Regions from separate parts of the Homo sapiens genome. Here all the other regions are linked to region 1. The links come from fine-mapping of genetic effects on gene expression. A gene starts in region 1. Each other region holds a variant in brackets. All regions are shown on one strand. Distances are between the middles of the regions.

Evidence for each region. PIP is the estimated chance that this variant, and not a neighbour inherited with it, causes the effect.
Region 2: its variant is fine-mapped to the expression of SAP30L in whole blood (INTERVAL, PIP 0.95).
Region 3: its variant is fine-mapped to the expression of SAP30L in whole blood (INTERVAL, PIP above 0.99). The same link has a PIP of 0.9 or more in atrial appendage and esophagus muscle.

What each region holds. Positions count from the first base shown.
Region 1 is chr5:154,440,020-154,450,284 of GRCh38, forward strand. SAP30L (SAP30 like) reads left to right here and starts at 5,978. Exons shown (of 4, transcript NM_024632.6): 1 at 5,978-6,786. The coding sequence starts at 6,586. It overlaps SAP30L-AS1 (SAP30L and GALNT10 antisense RNA 1), which reads right to left and starts at 5,803. Exons shown (of 3, transcript NR_037897.1): 1 at 5,719-5,803; 2 at 3,343-3,461. RefSeq lists enhancers at 5,602-5,721, 5,775-6,275 and silencers at 5,852-6,381, 6,512-6,621.
Region 2 is chr5:154,493,498-154,503,762 of GRCh38, forward strand. It overlaps the pseudogene LOC100128833 and the pseudogene LOC100271907. Among named protein-coding and RNA genes, the nearest start is that of HAND1, 20 kb to the left of the region's middle. RefSeq lists an enhancer at 9,952-10,031. The variant C/T (reference allele first, on the strand shown) is at 4,426.
Region 3 is chr5:154,461,689-154,471,953 of GRCh38, forward strand. No RefSeq gene overlaps it. Among named protein-coding and RNA genes, the nearest start is that of HAND1, 11 kb to the right of the region's middle. The variant G/A (reference allele first, on the strand shown) is at 5,620.

The DNA of each region.
Region 1 (10,265 bases):
GATGTAGAGCTAGGTTTGAAACCTGTAAATCTTTCCTTTAAAGACTGGGTGATACTCTGTTGGAGTCAGTACCAGTTCTTGCAATGCAAGCTGCAGAGAACATTGTTAAGATTCAGAAACAGCCAGTGCGGTGGCTCACACCTGTAATCCCAGCACTTTGGGAGGCCAAGGTGAGTGGATCACTTAAGGCCAGGAGTTCGAGACCAGCCTGGACAACATGGTGAAACCCATCTCTACTAAAAATACAAAAATTAGCCAGGCGTGGTGGCGGGTGCCTGTAATCCCAGCTACTCAGAAGGCTGTGGCAGGAGAATCGTTTGAACCCAGGAAATGGAGGTTGCAGTGAGCCAAGACTGCGCCACCCCATTCCAGCCTTGGCAACGGAGTGAGACTCCGTCTCAAAAAAAAAAAAAAAAATTCAGAAACTTGAGAAATGGCAAAATGCTGAGGCTGCAGTGGTCCCTGGATCAAAAAACTACAGGTCTTTGCAGCCCAGATTAGTCAGTGTTCTCCAGAGAAACAGAACCAAAATTAACCAAGACACACTCCCAGAATTTAAGAGATGGGGAAATTCTAAAAAGAGGTATAGCAGAGCAGCTGGTTGGGCTCCATATACATTCCACCCATCTCCACGTGTAGCAGAGCCCTCTGTTTTCACCTGAGCATACAGCCACCAGGAATAAGGGCTACATTTCCCAATGTTCCCCTCCCCCGTTAGGTATGGCGAAATTCTGGCCAAAGAGGTACAAGTGGGAGGCTCACCTACAACTTCTGGGAACTATCCTTAAAGAGCAAGGGTGAGCCCTTCCTCTGCCTTTCCCCCTTCCTCCTGGCTAGAATGCCTCAGTAGATGGGAGTCCCAGCAGCCACCTTGCTTAGTGACGCGACCTTGGGAATGGAAGCCAAACATGGCAAAGCAACAAGAGAAGCCTCGGTCTCTGATGCTGAGGAAAACAATCTGATCACCTCTAGGATTCCTGAAGGTGAGAGAAAAATGTAAGCTTATTTTTGGGTTTTCTGTTACTTGCTAAACCTAATTATGACTAATTAAGCCAATAATAGTATCTAATATTTATTGAGTACCTAATATGTGCAAGGCACTTTTATATCTAATAGTTGGTTTATATCTAATAACTCAGACAGTCTTCACAACAATCCCGAGAGGTTACTATCATCCCCATTTTACAGATGAGGAAACCATGGCAGACTAAGGCCATGTAATTTTCCCAAGGTTCCCAGGCTAGTCAGTGGCAGAGCCAGGATTCCAGCATAAGCTGACTACATCTAGATTTATACCAACCATTATGCTGTACTGCCTCTTGATTCCAGAGGCCAAGTCATCCATCATCCATCTATCCATCCATTCAACAAATATTAATCAAGTGCCTGGGCACTGGAAACTATGATGAGCCATAGAGACAGTTCCCTGTCCTTGCAGAACTTCCAGTCTCAGAACAATGTGAAAGGAAAATGAATCTCGGGACACCAAAATCACTAAGGCAAAGGGAAGAGTCAAGCTGGAAACTGCATCAGGCAAACCTACCTCTTATTTTATTCCTAAGTTAGATAGCTACAAAGATAAAAAAGCTACAGACCTCCCTCACAATTTGCCCACAAGGAAATTCCTTGTGGGCATCAAGATCTTTACCCTAAAACAGTTCTGTTGAATTTCACCCTGGCAATGTAAATGGATAGCTTATCTTCATAGGTGTGGGACAAAGGACAGAACTCAAAGTCATCCCTCTGCTCACCTGAGACAAATGAATATCTGATTGCTTCTTCTGCCCTGTTGTTTATGTAAAAATGCAGATCCACTGAGACAAAGGCATAAATGACTATTCCTCTACCACCCACCTCACCCCTTCCCCACATGTAAATTGTATATTCAGTGAAACGCTGAGCAAAGACTCAAAAGAATGCAACCATTTGTCTCTTATCTATCTATGACCTGGAAGCCCCAGCATCAAGTTGTCCTGCCTTTCCAGATGGAACCAATGTACATCTTGTACATATTGACTGATGTCTCATGTCTCCCTAAAATGTATAAAAGCAAGCTGTATCCCAACCACCTTGGGCACATGTAGTCAGGACCTCCTGAGGCTGTGTCACGTGCACGTCCTTAGCCTTGGCAATATAAACCTTCTAAATTGAGACCTGTCTCAGATACTTTTGGTTCATGCCAACATATCTATGAGTACCTTACAGAACCCAAGGGCAAGCTCAACTACCAGGCCCTGGGGAACACAGGAGGCAGGACCCACCATTAGTGCCTCTGCTCTAACCACTCCCACCAACCACCTGTCAGTTCCAACCAGCAGATTTGCTGGAGAGAAACTGACCAGTACAGTTTGAGCCACAGGCTTAACCCAGCAAGTATTCACTATTAGACAATCAGGGGCCACTCAAGGATTAGAAACCCAGTCACTGGACACCTAAGTGTCCACCTGTTCCCAAAGAAGGGCAGTCATTGGAAATCACTCCCAGAGCCATATGCCACATTCCCCAAAAAGGGAAAAGAGGAGAGAAAGAGGAGAGCAAAGAGCTTTTGTAGGACTGTGACTGCTTGGCCAAGGTATCCAACTCTGATTCTTTAAGGCGTGTTGGGGGATAACTTCTCAACTGGGGCCTGACTGGATGGAAGGAATGAAGGTGGGGAGGGCAGGGGCAGAAAAGACAGGAAAGAAAAAAAGGGTCAGTGAGCCTGGCCCTTAGACCTTGGAAAACTTTGTAGTCTTTGACCACAATTCCATCTCTGGCACTCAGAAAAAATAATAATCCTAAATAATAAAAAGTTTTATGTTCAAAAATAATTATACAGAACCACACAAAAAAGATATCCAACTTCTGGGGGGGCAAATGTAACTACGGTAGGAATCATGATAGCTGACATTTATTAACCACTTATGATGTTCTAGGCACTGTGTTAAGAATTTGTCACCACCTATTTCATCAGACTCAAGAAGTGAAATAATTGCTAACATGTTATAACAAGTCATGGGTGGAGTCCAGATCTGAACCCAGTTCTGACAGCAAAGCCAACTGTCTTTAGCACCACAGTGTACTGTACTACAGAAACTGCACTGTACTACATAAAAAATGGCAACTGTGAAAACTACATAGCAATATGGGGAAAGATTATGATAAAGTATGCCTTGAATAAAGACTACAAAATTATACATAAAGAATGGCTGGGAGCGGTGGCTCACACCCGTAATCCCAGCACTTTGGGAGGCCGAGGCGGGCAGATCACCTGAGGTTGGGAGTCCGAGACCAGCCGGACCAACATGGAGAAACCCCATCTCTACTAAAAATACAAGATTAGCCGGGAGCAGTGGTACATGCCTGTAATCCCAGCTACTCGGGAGGCTGAAGCAGGAGAATCGCTTGAATCCGGGAGGCAGAGGTTGCGGTGAGCCGAGATCGCGCCATTGCACTCCAGCCTGGGCAACCAGAGTGAAACTCTGTCTCAAAAGAAAAAAGAAAAAAGAAAAAAAAAGAACAGTTACAAGCATGAACTCCCCCACCACCACCACCACACACACACACACACACAGAGGCTGGCTGGGCGTATCAGGCTGGGTGTAATCAGGAAAGAGTAACCTTACAGTAATTTGAACAGGAAAATAATAATATAAACATGTATTAATTATAATAGGGGACTGTAGTCCCCTACAGTTATAAGGAACTGCCTAGTAAAAAGAAAAAAGAATGCTAAATAATACAAGAATAGCAGATATAAGTAGCCACTACCTCAAGGACTGAGACAGAGCACCTAAGAAAAGGTCCTAGATCCCCTTAGACCAGGGCAAGTTGGTGCAGAAGAAGTTGTGTACCGCAATAGCCTAGCATTGAATACAAATGCTGTTTAGAAAAATATGGGGAACATGGAGGTTTCATCCATACCAACTGACTTTGGACCCAACATCACACAGTGCCTGGTACAGATACCCAAGTGTTTTCTACATATATGTCTGAACACCCCAGATAGGAGATATTCTTTTAGGGCAAGGGTTATGTTTCATCCTCCTCCTATAGCCAACCCTATACTTGGTATACATAATGAGTTCAACAACAATTTACTTTTGAACAGAATATATGAACTCTGAGGGAAGACTCCTATTAATCTGTGCCTTTTTTCCATTAATTTTTATTCTATTTTTTCTACTGTAAAAACAAAAATAATGCTTATTAAAGAAAATGCAAAGGTTAAACAAAAGGAGAAAAATATCAGCCATATTCCTGCTACCCAGAAATAATCACTGTTAGTACTTTGGTGCATTTTTTATACCAATAGTTTTCTTTTTTCTTTAAACATAGATGTACAGACATCGTATCCTCCATGCAATTTCATATCCTGAATTTTTTTACTTATCATAAAAAAAGCATTTCTCCAACTCCTCATCAGCTCTTTATTTAAGAATTAATGGTGAATTATTCTCTATAGAAAATGTTTACATTGATGTTGAAACTACCTCAAATGCTAACTGCACAATCTCTTTCTGAAGATTTTAGGTAGTTTACTTAACCACTTCCCTTTTGGAACTCTGAGGTTCTATTTTATTTTTCCTATTATAAATAATTCCATAATGAACATCACTGTACTTCATATTATCTCTGATAGGCCTATTTCCGACGATGGCTGTCCCACGTGTGAAATTACCAGTTCAGATGCTACAAATGCATTTATGGCCACTGAGCAAAACTTAAGATCACCAGCCACCTGCTTCTAAACATGGAAACTGGTAGCTTTCCCTTTTACAACAGGACACAAACCCGAAGCTCCTTCTATGCCCTCTAGTACTAACACTTGCTTACCTATCACCTAACACAGCCTCCCCTCTTCCCTGCCCATAAAACGCTGCCCAGCCCTACATAATTACACGACCCTGGGCTGGTCCCATCGCCTTTCGGACCTCATCAGTCCCCATGCTGCGCAGTTGGAGAGTGGCATGACTGAAGTGCTGGACCAGAGCATATCCTACGGCCCCTCCTGGAGGGGAGGTGGTGCCCTGGGCGCCGAAACCAAGCGCAGGGTCTTGGCAGGGCGCAGTCGCTTCGCCGGTAGACCCGGGGACTCAAAGCAATAGAACTACAGCTTGGAGCTCCAGGGAGAGCCCAAGACACCGCAGCCCTTCCCCATCTAGATTCCGAGATTGGCCCCTGGGCCCCACTCCCAGCCTTCACTTCATCTCCCCTGAAGCCCTTTCTCTTGCCCGCGGCTCACCTAGTCCACCCTCCAGACCTCATTCGGACTTCCCATTCTTCCCAGTGGAGGGGTCGCCCAAACCCCTCGGGGTCTCCTTTCCCCCTCTCCTTTTCTTTCCGCGCCGTCCAAGCCAGTCCCACTCTCCACACTCTGGAAGGTATCGGCTACCCCCAATATTGCGACTGCCTTGCAAGATCCCCCCATCACCTCCTCCGCATGTCTTTCCACGTATCTGTATGGGGTTGTCCCTCTGTCTTTCCCGCCATGACTGGCTTTCCGTCCTATTTCACCCACCCTTCCTCCCACGGATCCGCGAGTCCTCTGGCCCTGGCCCTTTCATTTTATTAGTCCGCCCCTCTCCTGATAGCACCTCTATCCTCTTTAGGTCCCCTCATATGCCCCTCCTCCAAGTCTGTCCCTCAGCGTCCCCGTCCGCGTCTCTACTGTCTGTCCCCGAATGTGTTCCTCTGTTCCTGGAGTCTGGCCCTCGGTCCAGCCAGGCCCCTGCTCACCATCCCTCCCCCGGGCCGGAGAGTCTGCAGCCCGGTTCCCGGTTCTCGCTGGGGTAACTCTTTCCTCTTCCACTTTCTCTACTTTGAACCCATCCCAGCAGAGTCCAGGAAGTAGCCTGGCGCCGGAGACTGGCGGCGGCGACGCCCAATGGGACGCGCCAGCGGCGGCGGCAGCCCCGCCCAGAGAGCAAATGAGACCAATGGTCGCGTGAAGGCGGGACTTCCGCTGTCCCGCGAAGGGCGGGGGGAGCGAACTGTTGTGGTGCGGAGCGTTCGGCGGGCGGCGGCCGGGCGGCCCAGGGGCTGCCGCGGGACTCGGGGCGCAGCCGAGTGGCTGCAGGGGTGGAGTGGGCCGGACGAGCCGCGGGGCCCGGGTGCCGCGGGTTCGAGGCCGGGCCCCGCGCGAGGAGGCCGCGCCACCCCGGGGGAGCTGCCCGGCAGCGAGTTTGCCCCGCTGCCGAAAGAAGGCGGGAGCCGGCAGGGGCCTTCGAAACCCCCTGGCAACCCAGGCCCGGAGTCCTTGGGGAGCGGCTGTTTCCTGGGACGCCCTCCCGGACACCCCCGCTGCAGGGTTACGGTTCTGGGCCCCCGGCAGAAGGCTCCTCCGGGTGACCCCCGGCGGGGCCCTGCGAGCCGCGGGAGCCGACCCCGGGGCCTCGAGCCGGGAGGAAGGGGGCTTCCGGAGGCGGAGGGCCGGGGGCCGAGGGAGCCGGGCCTCTCGGACGCGGGGCAGGGCAGCGCCCGGGCTGGAGACGGACTCTGGGACCCTCGGCTGCGGGGGTCTCAGCGACCTGCCCCGCGGCAAGCGCGGCCGCGGAGTGGCCTACCGGGGACCCTCCCCCAGAGGGACCGGCCCGGGGCGGGGAGATGAACGGCTTCAGCACGGAGGAGGACAGCCGCGAAGGGCCCCCCGCCGCCCCAGCTGCCGCCGCCCCGGGCTACGGCCAGAGCTGCTGCCTCATCGAGGACGGCGAGCGCTGCGTCCGGCCCGCGGGCAACGCCTCCTTCAGCAAGAGGGTCCAGAAGAGCATCTCGCAGAAGAAACTCAAGCTGGACATCGACAAGAGCGTGAGTCCGCCCCCGCTCGCGTCTGGGCCCCGGCGCCCCCAGCTCTCCGTCCGCTGCCCTGGGCTCCAGTCGGGACTCCCCGGGCACTCCCCGCCGTGGGCCTCGCCGCCCCGGCTCTGCAGAACTGAGTTGGACTCCGCATTTCAAAGGCCGCTCCAGCGCTGACATGCTCTGACTGTGATTCTACCCAGATCCGGGAGGATGGGGGCGGGGGCTTCAGGACTCCTGCTGCCTGGAAAGATTGGACAGCAGTTTCCAACTTGTTTTATTGGTTTAGACTTTAGAGCAGGGAGAGGTGGGTTAGTTTTGTTGGCCCTTGAAGGAGCAAGAATCGGAGCGGGGAGTGATGAAGATACCCGGCTCTTTTCCAACTTCTCTCTCCTTCTAGGAACCCTGTTATTCCTTCAGACAGAGAAAGGTGGCAGTTACTTCCCTGGCTCCCGCATCCTCGGTATCAGCAGAGGGTCACCGAGCTAGCTGCTTCGCAGGCAGCTGTGGGAATGGGTTTTTCTAGGATGTGGCAGAAATAAGGCCAAGGCCAGGTCTTGAGAAATGGCTCTTGCAGTCGATGTGACTGGAGGGGGGAAGAAAAGAAATCAATTTTCTTAGTGGTAGTTTCTTTTGAAATAAGGGGGTGGATATTTAAATTTAAATCGGATTGCCCTGCTCTTTGTGGCTTATTATAGGAAACTCCTCCCGTGTGACTTCACCACTTCTAGTTAACAATTCTGAAGCTGTGCCTATTGTCAACCAATTAAGAACTTTTTAGTTTGACATCTGTTGCTACAAGCCTTAAGTGATTGCTTCATGATTAGGAATTGGAAATGAGTTAAGGGGATATTTAATATTCAGGTAGACTAGCTAAGAGCTTAGGTGGTTAACATCCATTCTCTTCTAGAATCAGAATTTCTCCACAGTTGGAGGAAATCAGAGACTGCTTGTTAAACTGAAAGGGAGTGCACGTTTCCCCTCTGATTTTAGGGTTGAAACAGGCCCAGAGATAGGAAGTGAGGGTGTCAGGTACACACAGCACCTAAGAGGCTGGTTAATTTCTTAAAGATATTATCTAATTTACTTCCAAGCCCTATACATAAGTCTTCATTAAGTCTCTAATAAATAAAAAATCTCCCCTGTCCTTTTTCTTTTCTTTTTTTTTTCTTTTTCTTTTTTTTTTTTTTTTTTTTTTTTGAGACGGAGTCTCACTCTGTCACCCAGGCTGGAGTGCAGTGGCAAGATCTCGACTCACTGCAACCTCCGCCTCCCGGGTTGAAGCGATTCTCCTGCCTCAGCCTCCTGAATAGCTGGGATTACAGGCGTTTGCCGCCATGCCTGGCTGATTTTTGTATTTTTAATGGAGATAGGGTTTCGCCATGTTGGACAGGCTGGTCTTGAACTCCTGACCTCAAATGATCCACCCGCCTAGGCCTCCCAAAGTTCTGGGATTACAGGCGTGAGCCACTGCGCCCAGCCCCTGTCCTTTCTTCAGACTCTTCCCTCCTACCCCCATTTTTAAGTTAATCATTATAATACAGTTGCAGCTCTTGCATGGACAGGTGCTATTTTTAAGTGGTTGGGAGAGAGTTAATGGCTTTCTTACTACAAATCTCTATCAATGAATGCATGAATGGAAATATCTGAGAACAAACAAGGGTCTAGACACCAAGGTGATCCCTCCTTAGGTCACACGTTGAGGTGAAATGCTTATGGCAATGAATTCATCCACTTAGAAACACTGCCTACCTTCCGTGTAGGTTGTTAGAAGCTGCTTTACTTGAGCAGCTTATAATAATAATTTCCAGTCCTTAAAAGAATCTTCCAGTCCTTTTAGATCACTGGATGCCTTCCCATCTGAATGATTTTGCTGCTGCAACTGGGACTCCTTTTATTTACCCATTGACTGTACTGGAAAACCTGTGTTGAGCTATGCTGATCATTTCACACACACTGTCTAGAAGAAGGGCAGCCTGAGCCTAGCATTAGTGTTCCCAAAATGTAATACTTCTGAGGTAGTAAGGTTTCCAGGTGGAATCACTCAAAATTTGTTTTAAGGTGGTGTTGTGGAGTCATTATTTCTGAAAGGGATTCTATTTCTTTCTCACAGGCTTGGGCAGGAATTCAATTCCAGGTAACTGGTATGTTACAAGAATTTTTAGCTATTGCAGAAAGTGAAGGAAAAAAAAAAACTAGAGCCTTTGCTACCACCCTCCTGCCCCAACCCCACTCCCAAAGGCCACTGAGCTCTGAAATTTCTGAAAACCAGTATGTACTTGAAAATGGTTAAGGAGAAAATGATTATTTATCTTGTAAGAGAGTCTAGCAGAGAACCTTTTTAAATAACAACACCAGAAATTCAATTCAGGCTGTTTAACTCATTTTATATAGACTTTGGCAGTGTTCTGTGATCTGTTAAAATACTAATATACCTCCAGTTGACATATTTCTGCTTTTTTTTTCCTGGAGAAAAGTGGAAGTTGAGAATAGTATAAAGGAAAATGCTGGAGTAGGAAAAGACATGTACTGGGGGGGCAGAAGGCCTGGGTGACCTTGGCCAGGTCATTTCCTCACTCTGGATGGCTTCATTTTACCCATTTAGAAAACGGATTGGGGTCAATGGGATTGCACTAGTGATTGCTAAGTTCTCTTACAGCTAGGATTCCGTTATTCTATTGTCCTGATCTGAAATCTCCCAGCCAAAGCTTTAGGAAGCCACCTATTCTCCCTGTTCTCCTATGAAGTTTGTTACTGTGAACTTGAGGAGCAGTTGATCTGAGTGGACTCGCCAGTCTAGCTAACATGGAGGGCTAGCTTCCTCTCAGGGATGCAGAGTGTGCTTTGTTGTGCTTTCTTCCTGGAGAAAAGCATGTCCAGTAGTATATACATCAGCTAGGTGGGATTCTTTGGGACAGTGGCATGTGCTGTGTTTGAAAGTCCTTTGACAGAGTTGAATCTGACAAAGCTATCCCAGTTTGTAACCATGTTAAGTGGTGGCTTTCATTAGCCTTAAGCCACTTTTAGATATAGGAGACTTCCTATATTGGTACATCAACATTTTTCGAGTACCTCCTGTCTGCAAGACACCATCACAGTATAAACTTAAAAGTACTTATGACTCACTAATCCAGCCACATGAAAGTGATCATTCATCTGAATAAATAAATAAACAGTTTTCATTATTTTCTCCATGAAAAGGTCTGAATTAATTGATGCGGATTTCCTGCCAGCTTACTTTTATCTTTAAGGATTTAAGGAATAAACTCAAATTCAGAAGTCTCTGCAGAACATTTGTGCAACAGCTGTTTCAGTATCAACAACCCCAAGTCATTTGCTGGGCATTCAGTTTCTGTAAAGTTTTTCAGTGGTTCCTCCAGCCAGCCTTGGAGGATTCTTCATGTCTTAGCTGTTGCTGCCACCTTCACTTACCAGTGTGCCTCCAGCCTGTATTAGAAAATCTGTAGTATCCACCTTCTTGTATGTGGTTC
Region 2 (10,265 bases), 53 kb after region 1:
GTCCTCTGTCGCAGGAGAACCGCTGGGCCGAGCCGCTGGGAGAAGCAGGCCAGAGCCTTCCAGAGCCTCCGCCCGAGGACCTGACAAAGAGCGCCTCCTCCTCCGCAGCCGGGTTCCCGGTGGCCTTACCAGCCTCCAGCAGCAGAAGCAACGCCTGATCGAGTCCCTCCGGAACTCACACTCCAGTATAGCTAAAATACAGAAAGATGTGGAATACAGATTGCCATTCACCATAAACAACCTGACAATTAACATATATTGCTTCCTCCACAATTTCCTCAGGAAAAACCAGTGATCAGTGTTTTTCCACCAATACGACATCACTTAATGGATAAACAAGGAGTGTATGTTACTTCTCCATTAGCAAACAATTTTACAATGCACCCAGATCTTGGAAAAATTATTCAGAGTCTGTTGGATGAGTTTTGGAAGAATCCTCCAGTTTTAGCTCCTACTGCAACAGCATTTCCTTACCTATACAGTAACCCAAGTGGGATGCCGCTTTATGCTTCTCAATGTTTTCCATTTCTTCCTCCATATCCCCCAGAAGAAACAAAGAGGAGTTATCACTTCTTTATCTGTTGCTAATACTGTTTCTTCTTCAACAACAAGTCATACCACAGCCAAGCCCGTCGCTCCTTCATTTGGTGTCCTTTCAAATCTGCCATTACCCATTTCCACAACAGATGCTTCAATATTGACAAGCCAAAATGGTTTTGGTTACAAGATGCCAGATGTCTCTGATGCATTTCCAGAACTCTCAGAACTAAGCGTGTCACGACTCACAGATATGAATGAACAAGAGGAGGTATTACTAGAACAGTTTCTGACTTTGTCTCAACTAAAACAAATTATTACTGACAAAGATGACTTAGTAAAAAGTATTGAGGAACTAGCAAGAAAAAAATATCCTTTTGGAGCCCAGCTTGGGAGCCAAAAGGCAAACCGTTTTAGATAAGTATGAATTACTTAAACAAATGAAGTCTGCTTTCAAAAAGAAGATGCAAAGGCAGTGTGAACTTAGTGAGAGCTGTAGTGCAAGTGCCCTACAGGCAACATTGAAAGTAGCTGCACATGAAGCTGGGGAAGAACCTGATAATATTGTGGAAGACTTTGTGGAGGGAAAAATGGAAATAAATGATTTTCTCAGTAGCTTCATGGAAAAGAGAACAATTTGCCACTGTAGAAGAGCCAAGGAAGAGAAACTTCAGCAGGCAATAGCAATGCATAGCCAATTTCATGCTCCACTATAGACATACACTGCCAAATGGAAGAAATTAAAGCCGCTTCCTCAATATTAGGCAACAAAGTTTCTAAGAGTGGGCAGCTACAAGAATGGCGTGTAGTGAGTTATGTTATAAAAATGTGAAAGCCATTACCACTATATCCTAAGTATTTATCATTTTAGCAAGGTATTCCCTGTTACATACAGTATATGGCAGAAAATGAATATACATTCCTTGTACTTAATTTGGGAACTGCTCAGCAGGTAATGCTCAAATTTTATATTCTAAAAGAATTACACTTGCTTTATTTTTTACATTAACAGAGTACTTTTATATCACAGTTCTTTAGTATATTCTTTTTTTTGAGACGGAGCCCAGGCTGGAGTGCAGTGGCACTATCTCAGCTTATCACAGCCTCCGCCTCCCAGGTTCAAGCTATTCTCCTGCCTCAACCTCCCGCATAGCTGGGATTACAGGCATGTGCCAACACGCCTGGCTAATTTTGTATTTTTAGTAAAGAGGGGGTGTCTCCATGTTGGTCAGGCTGGTCTCGAACTCCTGACCTCAGGCGATCCACCCGCCTTGGCCTCCCAAAGAGCTGGGATTACAGGCGTGAGCCACCGTGCCCAGTCACATATTCTATTTTTAAATATGATGAACACAATTACATTTTTTCATTTATATATATATTGCCACACTCCCTCCAAATCTTTCATACTAGAGAGATCAGCAATGTTGCTTTCTTGCCCTTTCTCTTTACTTTGTTCTAATTTCAGCAAAATGTAATACAGTCTCCCATAAAAAATTTACATATTCAAAATATTGATGTAAATTGTAGAGTTTAAATTAATCCTTTTACATTCTAGAATGTACTAGTATATTAAAACCATACAACATGAATATCATTTATCTCTGTCCAAACATGGCAACTTTTCTCCACTAAGTCTCATTTAGGTCACCCAGTGAAGTCTTTGTTTTACTCATAAGTCAGGGGAGTGAATCTCCCTCAAATGTGCATTTTAACAAAACAAAACCCTTTTCAGAACTTTCAGCAGTCAGTGGTCATGAGATGTTACTAATGTTAATTAAACCATATTAGTCAGTTATATAATTTCTAAAAGGATAGATTACAAAATCTAGTCCCTTCATTAAACAGACATGAGAACCAAATACTCTGGTTCTTCACTGGGTTTTCCCTACAGATGTTTTACCCTACTAACTTTATAATGTTATACTTTGATATCAAGCTGGTGGTTGGCCTACACTGTCGGTATTGCAGTCTCTAGAATAGTAATAAAAGGTTGTTATTACAAGAAAGCTAATACTTGAATTCATATATATAATCAGAAGAATGAATGTTGCTTCTACCCTGTTAGGTATTAAGTCAGTGTTAGAGAAAACGTGAGATATAAGTTTTAGCATTTTTAAATAATGAGGAGAAACAGACTAGATCTCAGAGAAATGCAACAAAATTATTCTAACAATTCAAAATATATTATCTAAGGAAAAGTTAAAGTGATGGTTATTCCTAAAAGATAAGCGTAAGCAATTAAAAGCTCTTTAGGAATGTATCTATTAACCAAAAAGGGTGCATCTCAACAATGTTCCTGTTTTTAAAAATATGGATAAGAGGGTCAGAAAGTAAGATAATGTCAGAAGCTTTAGAAAACACAAAATATGGATCTAGAAGTGAACTAAAAGGTTCATGATGATTACAGATGTGAGGAAAAGGAGTGGAGGCTTTTTGAGAGATGCATCCTATGACAAGGAAGATACATACTGATAACTTCAGGTAATGACAGAAGTAATTGCTCTGCAGTGAATATAATTTTCATAGTCTAGGGTGAGCTTCAAAATGGTGAACAATTTTCCTTATGTTTGATAAACAAAATGACAACGTCCTCTTCAATATCTAAGAAATTAAGAGCTGGACACTTTTTTCCCTTTTCATAGCCGCATTAAAATAGTTCTCAATGACAAAAAAAAAAAAGAGCCTCTTTAGAGATATATCCTGAGCTGTTTCTAAGTAAAATGATATCTGGGATTCCCTTCAAAATAATACAGGAGGAGGAATTGGGTGGGAGTAGAGATAAACAAGATTGACCATGAATTGGTAATGGTTGATGCTCTTTCATGTACGTTTTTAAATATAAGGTTTTTTCAATATTCTTCTCTAATAGTAGTTTTTAGCCTATTTTGGTCACATATCCCTTTGAAAATCTTAAGTCAGCTATAGATCCACTTCCGTACAAATCCACCTTTCACAATTTTAGGAGGTTCTGTCTCCTGAAACCCATTGCTGTATCACAGGTTAAGACCTCCTAACCTATAACATAATCTCCTTTTCTAAAGTTTGTATAGTATTTTTCAAGTAGATACATCATAATTCCCTTGACTAATCCCCTTATTGCTGGGAATTTTTATTAAATTATTATTAATAACATCATATTACATGTCTTTGCATATATATTCTTTAGGGCAAATTCCTAATAGTACCAAAAGATATGTTCATTTTAAACACTTTTTTATTTTTTTTTTCAAAGAGAGAGGGTCTTGTTATGTTGCCCAGGCCAGACTTGAACTCTTGGGCTCAAGCAATCCTCCTGCCTCAGCCCCCACAAGTAGCTAGCATTGTAGATACACAACACTGCACTGGCTTAAAGGCTTTTTTTTTTAAAAAAAAAAAAATCACATTGTCCCCAGAAAGTATTGTTAACATATATATATATATATATTTTTGATACTGGGTTTCACTCTGTCACCCAGGCTGGAGTGCGGTGGTGCGATCTCAGCTCACTGCAACCTCCACCTTCCAGGCTCAGGTGATCCTCCCACCTCAGCCTCCTGAATAGCTGGGGCTACAGGCATGCACCACCATACCTAACTAATTTTTTTGTATTTTTAGTAGAGGTAAGGTTTCATCATGTTGCCCTAGCTGGTCTCAAACTCCCGAGCTCAAGTGATCCACCCACCTTGGCTTCCCAAAGTGCTAGAATTACAGGAGTGAACCACCACCCCCAGCCTAACATATTAATATTTTAAAATCAATTCCCATCCCTGGAGTCCTGTCATCAGGATTCAAGCCTGGACAAGCAGCTTGTCCCTGGGCACAATTCGTCTTGCTTTTCTGAGCGTCGATGTCCTCACCTATAAACATGAGGCGCTAAATGAGCGGATTCTTTGATTGTGTCATTTTTTC[C/T]GATCCAGAAAATCCTGGCAAACTCTGTGGCCCTCAGAGTTCTGCCTTGGTTATCGGAGGAGTCTCCACAGGCTCCTAGCCATTCTTCCTGCCCCAGATCTCCATCTGTGATGGTGCACCTTTGACCACCAGGGTGCTCTTCCTACAACATTCACAGGTGGTGGGGCAGAGCTTTAGTGTGGTGGGCTCTTGAGGCAGACTTTGGGGACTGGAATCCTGACTCCAACCAACGGGCAACTTTAGGCAAATGATTTAACCTCTCTCTCTGCCTCAGTCATCTGTTAAATGGGTGTTTTAGATCAGAACCCACTTCACGGGCTTGAGTGAAGATTAATTGAAATAATACACATTAAAGTGTTTATAGGGCCGGGCACAGTGGCTCACGCCTGTAATCCCAGCACTTTGGGAGGCCAAGGTGGAAGGATAGCTCAAGATCAGGAGTTTTGAGACCAGCCTGGGCAACATAGCAAGACCCTGAGTCTACAAAAAATTTAAAAATTAGCCAGACATAGTGGTGCACGTCTATAGTCCCAGCTACTAGGGAGGCTGAGGTGCGAGGATTGCTTGAGCTCAGGAGGTCAAGGTTGCAGTGAGCCATGATCAGAACACTGCAATCCCAGCCTGGTGACAAAGCAAGACCATCTCTCTAAAACTAAAAATAAAAAAAAATAAAACAAAGGGCTTAAAACAGTGCCTAGCATAGTATAAACACTCATCAAACACTTGCTGTTATTATTACATCTCTCTGTCACCCTGCCCCTTCTGAGGACTTTCCTTTGCCTGCAGAGTAACGTGGGACTCCTCAGCATGGGAGCCAACCTTCTTCATCACAGCTCCTCAGACACCTTCCTGAGGGCCTTATCTGCCCTGCACACACCCTACTGTGAAAGCCAAAGAGAACAATGCCTATCCTTAACCCTGCCCTGTGCCCTCCTAAACTGTCCTTCCTTGGTTCCTTGATGGGAACATTTCCCTCTGCCCCAAAGGCATCTCCTAAATGCACTTCCAGAGGAAGGGCCAGGGCTAAAATCTACTCATGCCTGAGCCTAGACTGAGTCCCTGTGTGTGCCAGGCCCTACGTGCACCACAGTTTCCCTGTCTGTAAAATGTGGTGAAGAGACTAGACAACTCTAAGGAAACTTCCAGCTCTGGATAGTTCACTGGTTCCAGAATGAGATTCTCACTTCATTTATACACACTTTGTGACTATCCTTGGGAAGCCTAGTGTGTCATCCCCAGCACCCTGCCCCAGCTGTGAGAAACCCACAGGCCTCCCTCACAGCCTATTACATCAGAGCAACCACACTGGGAGCCATCATGTCACAGCCAGAATGAGAGAATCCAGGTTCAGGAGCCCAGGGAGCCAAAAAACCCCTTCGATCCAACCTGGAGACCTTGAATACATCATTTTCCTATGCAGACACCTCCCCTTCTCTCACCTGGGGAGTGTGACATGTGTCAAATGCACAAACCCTTTGGAGGTGGCATTATGCAGATTTAGGACTGTTGGGCCCAAGCTGGAGTCTAAGTCTCATAACTCAGTGTGACCTTGGGCTCAGGCTCACCAAATCCCAAATGGCCGGGCCTAGTTTTCCTAAGAGACCTTCAGACCTAGCACTCACTTAGGCCCCAATCTGCCAAGGTCATATATTTAAAATGTGGTTCCAAATGTCTTTCCTCAAATAGCCATTATTTGAACACAAAGAACATATAGGCTACAGTGTGAAAGAAACTTGAATTTTGCCTCCTTTTTTCTCTTTTTGCACTTCCTATGAGTCTAGTTATCCTGCCCATGTATGCAAATGTGGACAGAGTCACCAATTTCCTGGTCACTTTAGGTAATAAAAAGTCCTACAACCACTGCCAGTCACTAACTATAGTCTCAGTTCATCGCTCTGCCCAAATTATCAAACCTTCCAACTTGACTTAAAGTTGAGCCTTCTCCCTGCTAGCCCTTGACTCCCCAGCTTGCACTTTTTGCAGGTAAGTTATGAAGCCTGTCAGGGAGGGGCACACTAGGCTTCTTCCCCTGCATGCATCCTTCCCTGAAGAATCTGACAGCCTTGATCTCTGATTCTCTAGCTTCGGAGCTCTGGAGTGAGAGACGGGTTAGAGAAGCTGCTCGCCTGCAGTCCTTTTGCAAGGTGAATATATTTCTATGCTGGCTAGTGGTTTTCTCCTTCCTTAGCCCCTAGGCATCTGTCTAGCAAGACCTCCAGCTCCTTTTGGCTGTCTGCTTGCCCCTCCAGGAGTCCCTTGTGGACAAACCCTAAGATAACCCCCTGCTGGCACCCTCTCTAGCTGTCCCACATGAGTTCACAAAAAATCCAAAGATCTGGCTCTAGTAAGCTCTGGGGGTGAGCACCAGTGCAGCCACTTCACCTCTGCGCCATTGTCACAGCAGTTGACCAGCACAAAGGCTGCCCTCTAAAAGGAACAGGCAGGGTCAAATAGCAACCTGTTGTGTCCACCAAAACACAGGAGACACACCTCGAGCTTGTCTTAGGCCATTCCTGCTGCTATAACAAAATACCTGAGACTGGGTAATTTATAAAGAACAGACATTTCTTTGTCACGGTTCTGGAGGCTGGAAGTCCAAGATCAAGGTAACAGCAGGTTCAATGTCTGGTGGTGGCCTGGTCTCTGCTTCTAAGGTGGCATCTTGTTGCTGCTTCCTCCAGAGGGGACAAATACTGTGTCCTCACTTGGTGGAAGGCAGATGGGCAAAAAGCTACTAGCTAGTTCCCTCCAGACTTTTTATAAGGCACTGATCTCATACTAATCACCTCCTAAAGGCCCCACCTCATAAGACCATCACCTTGGGGCTTCAGTTCCAACATACGAATTTTGGATGGACACGTACATTTGAACCATAGCAGAGCTCTGAGTGGTCACTTTAAAGCACTGTTCTCCTTTCTTGAGATGAAGGGGGACATATTCTTCATTGCTCATTTTTGAGAGAAGGTGTAACTCACAACACATCAACTGCTACTTCAGATATTTCTCCCTTGGCTGGGCACAGTGGCTCATGCTTGTAATCCCAGCACTGGGAGGCCGAGGTGGGCAGATCACCTGAGGTCAGGAGTTCAAGACCAGCCTGACCAACATGGTGAAACCCTGTCTCTACTAAAAATACAAAAGAAAAAAAAAATTAGCCAGGCATGGTGGCATGTGCCTGTAATCCCAGCCACTCAGGAGACTGTCGCAGAAGAATCGCTTGAACCTGGGAGGCAGAGGTTGTGGTGAGCCGAGGTGGCGCCACTGCACTACAGCCTGGGTGATAGAGTGAGACTCTGTCTCAAAACAAAACAAAACAAAACAAAACAGAAACAAATATTTCTCCCTCATCCCCAACTACTTCCAACCCTTTAAAACCCACACACAATACCATAAGGGGTTGAGAGCAGCCAATCTTTGTCAGCTTTGTAAATTTTGCACCATGGTCTTGTTCTTTACTCTGGAATGTGGCATCTCTTCTATGTTGACCTCTCAGCTGGACATTTCAATTTTAATATGTTGTTACACTTATAATAATAGCCACCATTAATTTAATGTTTGCTCTACACGGGGCAGGCTCAGGGCTAATCATGTGTAGTGAATATTTGCTTTTTTTTCCAGCTCTCTGTATCCATCTCTTCCTCTTCTGCAAAGCACCCTGATTTCTTTTTAGATGATTACCTCTCCTTCATTTTGTGTGGCTGGCTGGGACACTCAGTAATGGGTAGTGTAGCAGATGGCTTTGGTGGCCTGCCCAGACACCCTTTATGCTGCAAGTGTTGGATGCTAATGGCTCACAGCTGCCCCCTTCCTTGGAGAATTGCCTGAGGTGATTTACCTGGGGCTACCTGAAAGGTTACACCGCTTCCCCTGGGAGTGGCCTGGGGTCAATGACTAACTAATGTGGAGTAAACCCAGCCCCCTTGCCTCTAGGTGGGACAAATTCACCGGTGCAATTCATACTCCCCCAGCATCAGGCTGAGAGACTAGACTCACCCTAAAACCACATCTTGACCAGCTTCTTCTTCCTTTGCCCAGTACTGCTCTGCTACCTCCTCTTCCCCTGACAGCACTCTCAACAGAATATTGCATGAGAATCCTTGTCTCAGGCTCTGCTTCCAGAGAAACTGACATAACCCAGGTGGGAATGTGACCCAAAAGAGGCCCATCTCCCAGGAAACTGCATCAAAGATAGGAGGAAAAAGAGGTTGAAACCTTACTGTTCTGGTGGTAGCTCCCAACAAGATTATTCCTTATTCCTGTTATCTTGATTCCTGGAGCATCCCTGGTTCTTTCAGTTTTTCTTGGGATTCTCTGTGTATTCCACATCTTGCTCTCTGACAATATCCCTTTTTGCTGACCTTGTAGCCAAACTGTTTCTGATGGCTGCCACCAAAGAACTGTACAAATATAGGATTTAAATGCAATATCTCAACGCTCCAATTGCCCTCCAAAAGCAACAGGTGTTATTATCCCTTCCATTTCTCAGAAGAGGAAGCTGAGCCTTAGAGAGGTTTAGTCACTTGCTTTAGGTAGCACAGCTAGTAAATGGTATTACTAGGAGTTGGGCTCTGAGCTCAGGTCTATCTAATACCAAAACTGTGCTCTTAACAACTCCAATGTGCTATCTCCAAGTGGGAAGAGCAAGCTGCTGTGGCCCACAGCTCTCTACTCCCCACTCTTTGTTAGGTTAATATGCCCATGAGCAGATCGCCATTGCTCCTGAGGCAGTGAGCCTGGAAGGCTAAGTACCTGGGCTTTAGAGTTTCGTTGGCACTCAAGCTCCATCACTTGCTAGTGGTGTCAACTGGGCAAGTTACCTAAGTTCTCTGAGCCTCAGTTTCTTAATCAGTTCAATGGAGACAATAGTGCCTAAACAGGATTGTTGAAAGGATTAAAGGAGGTCTTGAAAGTAAATTGCTTAGCTTGGTGCCCAGCATCTGGTAAGTACTCAATACATTGTAGTTGTTATTCATTATTGTTGTGTTACTTCCTGTCACACAGGGATGGCTTGGAACATATTTCAGCCAATGACATAGCCAGGGGAAGCCCATGGCAAGGACTGTCCCGTGCTCTCTGTCTTTCCTCCAGGTGGCCCACAAGAGATTCCCCACAAGGGCCTGCTTCCGCATTGTTAGGGGCAGGCCTGCAGAGGCCAGGCAGGTGCAGTAATTGACTGGAACAGGTCAAGCTGGAAGGCAGTACTAGCCACAGCCAGTTGTGGCCATTTGGAAAAGTGGACTCAGAGCTGCCAAATCCTGTGAGTTTTCAGGAAAAGCCAGGAATCTAGATTATTACATCAAACTCCCAGTTTTCAAATGTTTTAACTTAAAACACATTTTTTAATGCTGATTTGGCCAAACTAAACCCATATGTAGCTGAATGTGGTCTCAGTTTGCAACTCTGGGTTGGAGGTGCTGGTTGGCGTGGTTGCCGTGTGAAAGTGAAAGCCAACCAGGCTGGCCAATACGGCAAAACCCTATCTGTACTAAAAATACAAAAATTAGCCAGGCGTGGTGGCATGTGCCTGTGATCCCAGCCACTTGGGAGGCTGATGCAGGAAAATTGTTTGAACCCAGGAGGTGGAGTTTGCAGTGAGCCGACATGGCGCCACTGCCCTCCAGCCCAGGCAACTGAGTGAGACTCCATCTCAAAAAAAAGGAAGTGAAAGCTACCCTTCTCCCACACCACAAAATTCACCTCCAGGTCCTTAGATGGGGTTGGTTCTGGGGGGACTTCTGCCTTTGACTGCTCATGTTTTTAGATGCTCATTTAGAAAGCAGGGCCTGAGTTCATAGTGTGAGTTGAGCCCTGTGCTGCCAAGAGGATCTAAGGTGACTGAG
Region 3 (10,265 bases), 22 kb after region 1:
GAATCTCCCAGCCCCTCCTGCTGGCCGTCTACTGAATCAGAATCTGCATAGTAGCAAATTCCCTAGGGATACTACAGCTTGAGAAGCCAGGGCAGTATGACTGCACGTTCCTGGTGGAGGTCCCTGAGGCTACCGGATGACGCCTCTCGCCTGTCCTCACAGTGCTAGAGAAGAGAAAGGCAAGCCTCAAGTTCAGGTCTCCCACTTCAAGCCTGTCTCTAGTGCCACTTTACCACAGCTTTGTCCTCAGCAGAATGAAAAGGGAGAAGTGCAATAAATATTTGTCTTTATCATATTAGTTACATAGAAGTAATACATCTTAGCTCTAAAATTTTAAGCCTTACAGAAATTTTAAAAGTGCAGATCCTTTCCTTCCCACATCCTTCTCCTCTCCCATTCCACTCCCCTGTAAGGAGTGTGGAGGGTGGCTTTTCATGAGATATTTGAGAGGACAGGAAGTCCTGGCTCTCACCAAGGAGCTCACAGAATTAGTGATGGATTGTTGCTGAAGGACACCATCATTTACAGGGTCCCTGAGTTGCTTTAGAAAGCAAAGGAAGTTCCAGTTTTCATACTGTGTTTCTTAGCATAAGTAGTTGCTTCCCCTCCTCTGCCATCCTCCCATTCTTTTTTTTCTTTTTTTTTTTTTTTTTTGAGACGGAGTCTCACTTTTTCACCTAGGCTGGAGTGCAGTGGCGCAGTCTCGGCTCACTGCAAGCTCCGCCTCCCGGGTTCATGCCATTCTCCTGCCTCAGCCTCCTGAGTAGCTGGGACTACAGGCGCCCACCACTGCTAATTTTTTGTATTTTTAGTAGAGACGGGGTTTCACCGTGTTAGCCAGGATGGTCTCGATCTCCTGACCTCGTGATCCACCCGTCTTGGCCTCCCAAAGTGCTAGGATTACAGGCGTGAGCCACCGCACTCGGCCTCTCCCATTCTTTTATACTGTGTCTAACCATGGGGGCCTGCCTGCTGTCCTCACACACTGAATGGCAAAGGGGTGCTTTGTCCCCACACTTTGAAAACTGGCTGACCCCCTGCTGCAGTAAACATCCCTTGATGATCCACAGATATCAATTTAATGGAAAGATGGAGATGAACCCACATGTTAATATGCTATTAGAACAGAAGTTTCACGAGGAACCCAACACCCTTTTATTTTCTTTTCAAAATAGAGCTTTAGGACATCGAATATCAGATCATCTGAGGTCCGGTGTTTTAATCCCAGCACTTTGGGAGGCCGAGGCGGGCGGATCACAAGGTCAAGAGATCAAGACCATCCTGGCCAACATGGTGAAACCCTGTCTCTACTAAAAATACAAAAATTAGCTGGGCATGGTAACACGCACCTGTAGTCCCAGCTACTCAGGAGGCTGAGGCAGGAGAATCGCTTGAACCCGGCGGAGGTTGCAGTGAACCAAGATCGTGCCACTGCACTCAGCCTGGCGACAGAGCAAGACTCCATCTCAAAAAGAAAAAAAGTGTGGCACTTGCCACCCCTTACCCCCATCAGAATCCCCTAAGCACTCTGTTGCAATGCCAATTCCTGGGCCCCCATTCCAGATCCTCAGAATGAAAAGCTCAGGGTCTAAGTCCCAGTAATAATGATTTTTAAAATTTCTCCAGGTAAGACTTAAGCTCAATAAAGTTGAGAAGCACCAATCTGGTCCAGAGGTTTCCCAATCCCAGCACAGAGATGAACAGCTTCAGTATCACCTGTTCAAATACTAGTTAAAAGTTCCCCTTGAGCTCTCTTTCATGAGAATTTTCTCAAGTGAAGCCCAGGAAACTATGTTTTTATAAAATCCTCTCGGATGCTGGGCGCGTTTTATAAAATCCTCTCGGATGCTATAATCGCAGCAATTTGGGAGGCCGAGGTGGGTGGATCACTCGAGGTCAAGAGTTCGAGACCAGCCTGGCCAACATGGCGAAACCTTGCCTCTACCATACAAAAACATTTAGCTGGGCATGGTGGCACATGCCTGTAATCCCAGCTACTAGGGAGGCTAAGACAGGAGAATCGCTTGAACCCAGGAGGCGGAGGTTGCAGTAAGCCAAGATTGCACCACTGCACTTCCAGCCTGGGCGACAGAGCAAGATTCTTATCTCAAAAAAAAAAAAAATCCTTTCAGAAATTTATCTGCACATCCAGGTTTAGGAACCACTGAGTCCAATCCCCTAAGGCCCTGGTCAAGAAAGTATTATAACTATGTTACGTTCAGCATCAAACAGCTCAGAAGTGGCAGAGTCTGAGCAAACAGAGTGGCTGACACTGTTGTCATTCAAATGGATGATCTTCAGTCTGCAGAAAACCAGAATGAAAATAACCCACCATTCCAGCCCAAGACCTGACACAGAGGAGGACACTATATTTATTTAGTACTGGGACTGAGTCTTCTGTGTACTCAACAGTTTTTTGTCTACAAAGATCTTCTATATTCAGGAATAATAATAGCTATCAAGTACAGAGTCCATGCCAGACAATGGCTAATAGTTTTATGTGCATTAATTCATTTAATCTCACTACAATCATACAAAGTAGGAACTATTATTAACTCCAATTTATAGAGATGTAAATACAGTCTCAGAAAAGCTGAGGAACTTGCCCCAGTAACAATGAGAGCCAAAGAGGTAAAGGCACTCCCAGGATGGATCCCCAAGGCTTGCCTCGCTCTAGGGATACTGCTGTCAACCCCACCGTCCAAGAACTCAGAATGCCAAGCTCTGAAGCAGCGCAGCTACAACAGTTACCCTTGTCCCAATCAACTGGATTTACTAAACTTTAATGAGGGATTTTGAGAAGTCACTAGGACTCTAGTTAAGAAATTTAATAGGGTTTAATGGAGGTTAACAAGGTACATCCAACCTTCTAGCCAGGTTTTAACTTACCAGAGCTGAACAGAGATTAACAAGCCCAGGAGGTGTAAAGGCACCTGCATGATTTAATGGGGTTAATGAAACTGTCAGAGGTTGGCTGAGAGGGAGAGAACTGGAGCATGCTGCTGTTAACAGTCGATCTGGTTGAGGTCAACAGACATTTATTAAACAGCTGAAGCCTGCCCTGTTCTGCCCTGGGCACCACAAGGGTAGCCAGTTAAGAAAGACCACAACTGATATGGCAACCATGGTTAGTCCTGGTTGGTGATTTTGGAGTAAATTTGACTCTCTTCTTTGTGCTTTCTTGGTATCATCTAAACTGGTTATAATGAACACAAATCATTTTCACCGTAACTGTAAAATAGCAAAGCATTTTTAAGTGCCTTCAAAGCACTTACTACCTGCTTGCATAGTTTACTTTACATATTCCCGAAACATATAGAAAGTAGTAAGAGAAGTAAAAGCAACAACAATAATACAACCTTAAATTTGAGCAGCACTTAAAGTGTTGTACAGCGCTGTCATCCATCACTTCTGTGAGTTTTTGTCACGCTATGAAACAGTGATATACAAAGTCACACTGGTAGTGGAGAAGACAGAGAAAATCTTCATCTTCCGCCTCCCGAATTGGTACTGTTTTTTCACTGAGCACTTACAATGTGACAGTCCCAATGGTAAGTAAGCACTGTACATGCCTTGATAACCCTATGAGATGAGTATTATTATTATCCCCATTTTATAGATGAAAAAATCGTTTAGAAGGGTGAAGTGGCTTGCCCAAGGTCACCAGGAAACGGTGGGGATGAGTCACACAGGTTCCAGCGTCCACTATGTCATGCTGCCTAATACTTGAGTAAGATAATATTTCGCAAGAGCATTGTTTAGAACAGTGAAGAACTGGAAACAGCCTATATATCAAATACTAGGAGACTGGTCTTGAAAGCATTATACATATGTCATAATTGTAAAATAATGTTTAATGACATAGAAAGATATGCATATCAGCTTAGAAATACTATATATGTAAACATATGTATACAGAGTATCTATATACAACTATATGGAATATGTATCTGTATAGATATATGTTTATATACATAGTATACATGTATATTTATACACACATATCTGTAACTATGACCATATATAATTTTTTTTCTTTGAGACAGGGTCTCACTTTGTCACCAGGTGATTGGAGTACAGTGGTGCGATCTTGGCTCACTGTGGCCTCAACCTCCCAGGCTGAAGTGATCCTCCTGCCTCAGTCCCCCAAGTAGCTGGGACTACAGGCGTGCACCACCACCATGCCTGGCTGATTTTTTTGGTATTTTTTGTAGAGATGGGGTTTTGCCATGTTGTTACCCAGGCTGGTCTCGAACTCCTGAGCTCAAGCAATCTGCCAGCCTTGTCCTCCCAAAGTGCTGGGATTATAGGCGTGAGCTACCATGCCCAACCCTGCTATGACCATATTTATAGGTAAATCAAAGCATCTACTTGCTAACTTCATGTGTAGCCACACTCTATCTATGTGATTCAGAGTAAGGGGAAAATACCAAGGAAAAGGCATTCTGAAAAGTAGGGGAGCTTCCCGGAAGAGGAAGCACCTAAGCAGGCCCTTGAAGGAAACAGGTTTGATGAGATGAGAGTGAAGGGAAGTCCAGGCTGATGTGACAGTGAATGAGGAGCAGAAAGCCTCATGCTGGAATGAGTACCTTGAACTTTGGAGTCATCAAACCTGCTATTATTAAAAAAAACAACCCATTGATGAAATATGGTCACAAAAGTATTTGAGTATCTGCTGTGGGCCAGGTGCCAAAGGAAACGGACTCTGTCCTCCAGGAGCCAGGAATTTCAGAGGAGCTAAGACTCAGACAGGAGTGGGAAGTAGTCCTTCAACTACTAAAATCATAGAATCTGTGATGAAAGCTCGGAGCCCTGCGTCAACCCTACTTCTGAGGAAGGAGCAGTGCATAACGGGCACTTGAAGTCTTAGAGAAGCCAATGAGGGTTAGCAAATGTAATGAGCTTAATTAAGCTAAAACAGTTAAAAGAGACTTCCTGAGGGCTCATAGCCACTAGCAAGATTGGCCTTTGTTAAGTGAGCAGTGGGAGGTTACCTGTGCCCAACCAGAGCCTCTCCTGCCTAAGTGATGGGGGATGCAGGAGTGGACCAGGCTTCAAAGGGAGCCATCCAGTCAGCTGGGCTGGGACAGGTTCAGCAGAGCTCAGACTCAGCCACGCGCACTAGCAACTGCCAGAAGGTGAAGCTGTATCTAATGAAACTTACTGAAGCCCAAAGAATGAGGACTGAGGGAATCAATTACTCACAAGACCGCAGCCTGCCTACTGGGGTTTATCTAAACTAGATGAAGTTGAACTTGGCTGAGTCAATTTAAACAGTTCCAAGGGGGCTCCTTCATCTTCAGCGAAGGGTGTTCTATCTCTGGTGGCTAATATAGTTTTCAAATGTATGCTATTCGTATTTCTATCAAGGAATATTTCCAAAGCTGGATATGAAAAGATGGTCAGGATGGCCCAGCTGCAGAAATATAGCTATTATTTGTTAAGCACCGACTGGGAAGTAGACACTGTGCTAGGGTCTTTGTATATGGTCCTAATCCTCACACAGACCTGCAAAGAAGCTATTATCATTGCTAGTTTTCAGATGGGAAAACTACAGCTTGGAGAAGTCAGGTGACTCACCCAGGGTCTCACAGTGAACTGGGATTTGAGCCTATGTCA[G/A]TCTGACTCCCCTGTGCACCATGCAACCTACACCACAGAATGAAGTGGAATATTGACCATGCTGGGAAGATGGAAGAGTGGTAAAAGCTGTTGGAAGAACTCAGGATCCCAGCAACCTGGGTTATTTAGTGCAGGGGGAAACTGCCCTCTGTGTTCCATTAGCCCTGTGTAGTAGTGGCAGAAATATTCTGAGTTACTAGGAGAGGACTGTGTTTGTTCAGTGGCTTCTATTCAAAGGAACAGGAAAAAAAAGTGTGGCGCATTTCAGATTTCACATAGTAAGGAAACACAGATCCCTGTCCCTAAGGCATATTTAGGTAAGAAGGCCTCAGAGATCTTGGGTTACAAAACCCCAGCGTCCCTCAGGAGTTAGGCTCACACCCAGGACTCCTGGTTTTGTGAACTTGCTGAGTCCCTTCTCTACGCCCCTGAATTGCCAGAGGAAGTTAAAGAAAGGGAGTCCTGGGGCTCCGGGCTCACCTTGCAAGGAGGAGTCTGGGATCCTGTCTGGTTTCTCTGCGCTGAGAGTGCAGAAGAGGGAGTATGGCCACCAGGTGGCGCCCTCCCCTCAATCGGTGGCAGCCTCAGGCCACAGGGGAAGGCCCTAGGAGTATTTTCTGTCCCTCATAGAGATGCTGTATTTGGTGAATACTTCGATTCACACCGTTGTAAAAATCCTAGAGAGTCCATGCAGAAAGGGACTTAGATCTGGTCCCCCTTCCTTGTTTTACAGAGTCCAGCTGGGGCAAGGAAGTACCGAAGGTCACACAGCAAACTGAACCCCCTTCTCTTGCCTTCTGGGGCTAGTGCTTTTCCTGCCACACTAGCTGTTCTTGCACTTCCAGCCACACCTCCCACGCCTCACCGTCGGACAGCCTGCGCTCTACCCTCAGCCAAGAGCCTGGTCTCAGGGTGCCCTGAAGGGCCACGCTGTCTTCGCCTTTCCTGCCACACTCTGTCGCTTCCCAAGCAGGCCCAGCAGCTCAACCTCAACCACAACAGCAGCAAGAACAGCTCGTGTTTACCACCGGCCTGCTCCAGGCCAGGCTAAGAGCTTCCCAGGTCCTCAAAACGCTTCTAGACGCTACTCTGCCTTCCCTTTTTTTTTCTCTCTTTTTTTGAGAATTTTTTTTGAGACAGAGTCTTGCTCTGTCACCCAGGCTGGAGTGCAGTGACGCGATTTCAGCTTACTGCAACCTCCACCTCCCAGGTTCAAGCAATTCTCCTGCCTCAGCTTCTCGAGTAGCTGGGATTACAGGTGCACGCCCCCATGCCCGGCTAATTTTTGTATTTTTTTAGTAGAGACGGGGTTTCCCCATGTTAACCAGGCTGTTCTCCAACTCCTGACCTTGTGATCTGCCTGCCTCGGTCTCCCAAAGTGCTGAGATTACAGGTGTGAGCCACTGCGCCTGGCCTCTGCCTTCCCTTTTACAGAAGTGAGCTGTGGGTCTCAGAAAGGTTAAAAAACCTGCCCATTGCCATGCAGCTCATTTCACCAACTCACCTAGTTTTGAGTACAGGCCTGGGGGGCCAGTCTAGACCTCCCTGTTGACCTTGGCCAGGCCTCTTGTGCTAATATGTTTTCTGTTTCAAAACACTTTTTTTTTTTTTGAGACAAAGTCTCACTCTGTTGCCCAGGCTGGAGTGCAGTGGCGCTATCTCAACTCACTACAACCTCCACCTCCCAGGTTCAAGCAATTCTCCTGCCTCAGCCTCCCAAGTAGCTGAGATTACAGGCATGTGCCAACACGCCCTGCTAATTTTTGTATTTTTCGTAGAGATGGGGTTTCACCATGCTGGTCAGGCTTGTCTCGAACTCCTAACCTCAGGTGATCCACCCACCTTGGCTTCCCAAAGTCTTGAGATTACAGGCGTGAGCCACCGCACCCAGCCTTCAAAACACTTTCAAAGATCTTTTCCCACTTCAGCGTGACAGGAGTTCTGTTGCGGGGAGGAAAGATATTGTTAGCCCATCTTAGAGATTAGAAAACTGGGGCACAAGGAGATGACTGGACCAAGGTCACCTGACTCATAGTAGACTTGGAACTGGAACTAGGTGGGACACTCCAAAAGGCACTCCACATCTTACTGCCCAGCTATAGTCCCCCTACTGTCTCTGGGAGTCACGGAACTGAGTGGCTGAAAGGGCAGGTTTTCGAGTCAAATGCATCTGGGTCTGCAGCCCAGCCCTGCCACTTAATAGTTATGTGCCTGGACCAGGCACGGTGGCTCTCGCCTGTAATCCCAGCACTTTGGGAGGCTAAGGTGGGAGGATCATTTGAGCTCGAGACCAGCCAGCTGACAAGCTGAAACCGCATCTCTACTAAAAATACAAAAAGTTAGCCAGGTATATTGGTCAGCACCTGTAATCCCAGCTACTCGGGAGGCTGAGGCAGGAGTATCGCTTGAACCTGAGAGACGGAGGTTTCAGTGAGCCGAGACGGCACCACTGCACTATAGCCTGGGCAAAAAGAATGAAACTCCAACTTAAAAAAAAAAAAAAAAAGCCCCTGGTTTTGAAGGCTTAGTATGAAAAAAAAAGAATGTAAAATATCTTACTAATAATTTTTAGATGGATTCATGTTGAAATTCTATTTTGGATATATTAAGTTAAACAAAATACATTATTAAAATAATTTCACCTGTTTCTCTTCTCATTTTTATTGTGGCTACTAGAAAATGTTTAATCACCTATGTGACTCGCACTTATAGCTTGCATGATAGTTGTACTGTACAGTGCTGCCTGAAACAGTTTCAGAAATTCAACGGCTACAGGCTGCCTTCCCCCTGTGTTACCTTAATGATGTGGACTATAAGGGCTTTGAAGCAGGAATTTGCTCACTGGGTGTGTGTCCTTGAGAAAGTCACTGAAATCTTCTGCATCTGTTGGAAGTATGCCCTGAGTCTCCAAAGCCAGCAAACAAACCAAAAGAAACCCTCAATGCTTCACAAGACTGTTATGAGGATTAAATAAAATAATAAAAATAGCTCTACCATGGGCAACGCGCTAAGTGCTTTGCATGCCTTATCTCTTTCCATCCTCACAGACCCAAGGATGTTGGGGGAATGATTGCTCTCATTTTGTAGATAAGAAAACTGAGGTTGAGAAATGTTCAGTAACTTGTGAAGAAAACTGAGATTGGGAAATGTTCAGTAACTTGTGCAGGGACTCCTGGCCCTTGTATTGTTCTGTTCCCTGCACTAAAAGTAGAAGGTATTAAATAAACAAAGGGAAGAGAAGGGCACAACTTCCCTGAGATGCTGGGCAAGTCCCTCTCCTTTGTGAGCCTCAGTTTCTCCTTCTGTAAATGAGGGACATGCTTGGATGGTGGGTAAAGACCTTTGAGGTCTCAGTGTTATGGGGTGTGTTCACATTTCAGTGAACATAAGCCTTTCAGGACTCCTCTAAAGTCCGATGCTTTCCATTGTCTATTTTGTGGGGATAAATGTGCATTTCTGTTTGTTTTAATAACATTTGTAGGAGCTTTATATAGTGTCTACGTCTGCTTACATTAGATGCTGTGTATTATAGTTAAGAGTCTTTCACGATTTCCCATATAAACCTAGTTTTTTATGAGTTTGGGAGAGCTCAGCTGTAAAAACTCTCTCAGCTGAAAAAATTTTGTTTCTAACAAATCAGGTTTAAATCAGGAGGCTGGTTTCAGACACTTCAGAACGTGCATATTTTTTCTCTTCAGTCACTCTTCATTTAAAAATGAGATTGGCTGATTTCTTAGTTTCGTTTCTTTTGTGAAGATTTAGCAAGACTATAAGGTTAACCAATGGTTGCATAGACAGAAGGTATCCAGTGCCTTTTCCGTAAGAACCCTGGGTTTGAGGCGCACCTTCTAATCCGGGCTCAGCCTTTGACTGGCTGTGTGACCCTGAACTGGTCACATCAACTCTCTTGGGTTTGCCTTTCCCACATCTGTCCATGGGGAGCATCATTCCTGCCTTGGCTGTCTTCCAGATTATGGGGAGGAAAATGCACTTATAAAAGTGGAAGTACCCGGGTAAGGTAAATGTGCCAGGCAAACACCAGAGACTACTGCAAAGAATAACGTGCTGAATTCCTCACCAGGAGAAAGTAGATTCCTGGAATCAGAATGTTACTAACAGGAAACCACCTTGGAGCCTACCCTTTTCCTCATTTTCTAGATGGGATCCACTCAGAGCCCTGACAGGGGAAGAGGGTTCCAGGAGAATGCTGGAATTTGAATCCCAGATCCTTTCACGTAACTCCTTCCTTCTTTTTTTCTCTACCTTACTTTGGGGACTAAGGAAGATCAGACTGAGAGAAACTGTATTTGGGCACATATGTATGTATACACACACACACACACACACACACACACACCTGGAGGTGCTCCGAGATGTGGGGGAAACAGGTCTCTGGAGGTAGCCATGTTTGCACTTTGATACAAGTCCTATCTGCCATCCATGTGACCTTGGACAAAATCCTTCACCTCTCTACGCCTCAGCTCCCTCAATATTGACCTCACGGAACCCTGTGAGGCTTATATGAAATAATGCATGCTGAGTTTAAATACTTTTCTTTATAAATGTTAGCTGTTACTATTCCATTCATCAATAGACTTTAAATGTAAGAAAAAAAGACTATTTGCTGTGTACGAGGAATAATAAAC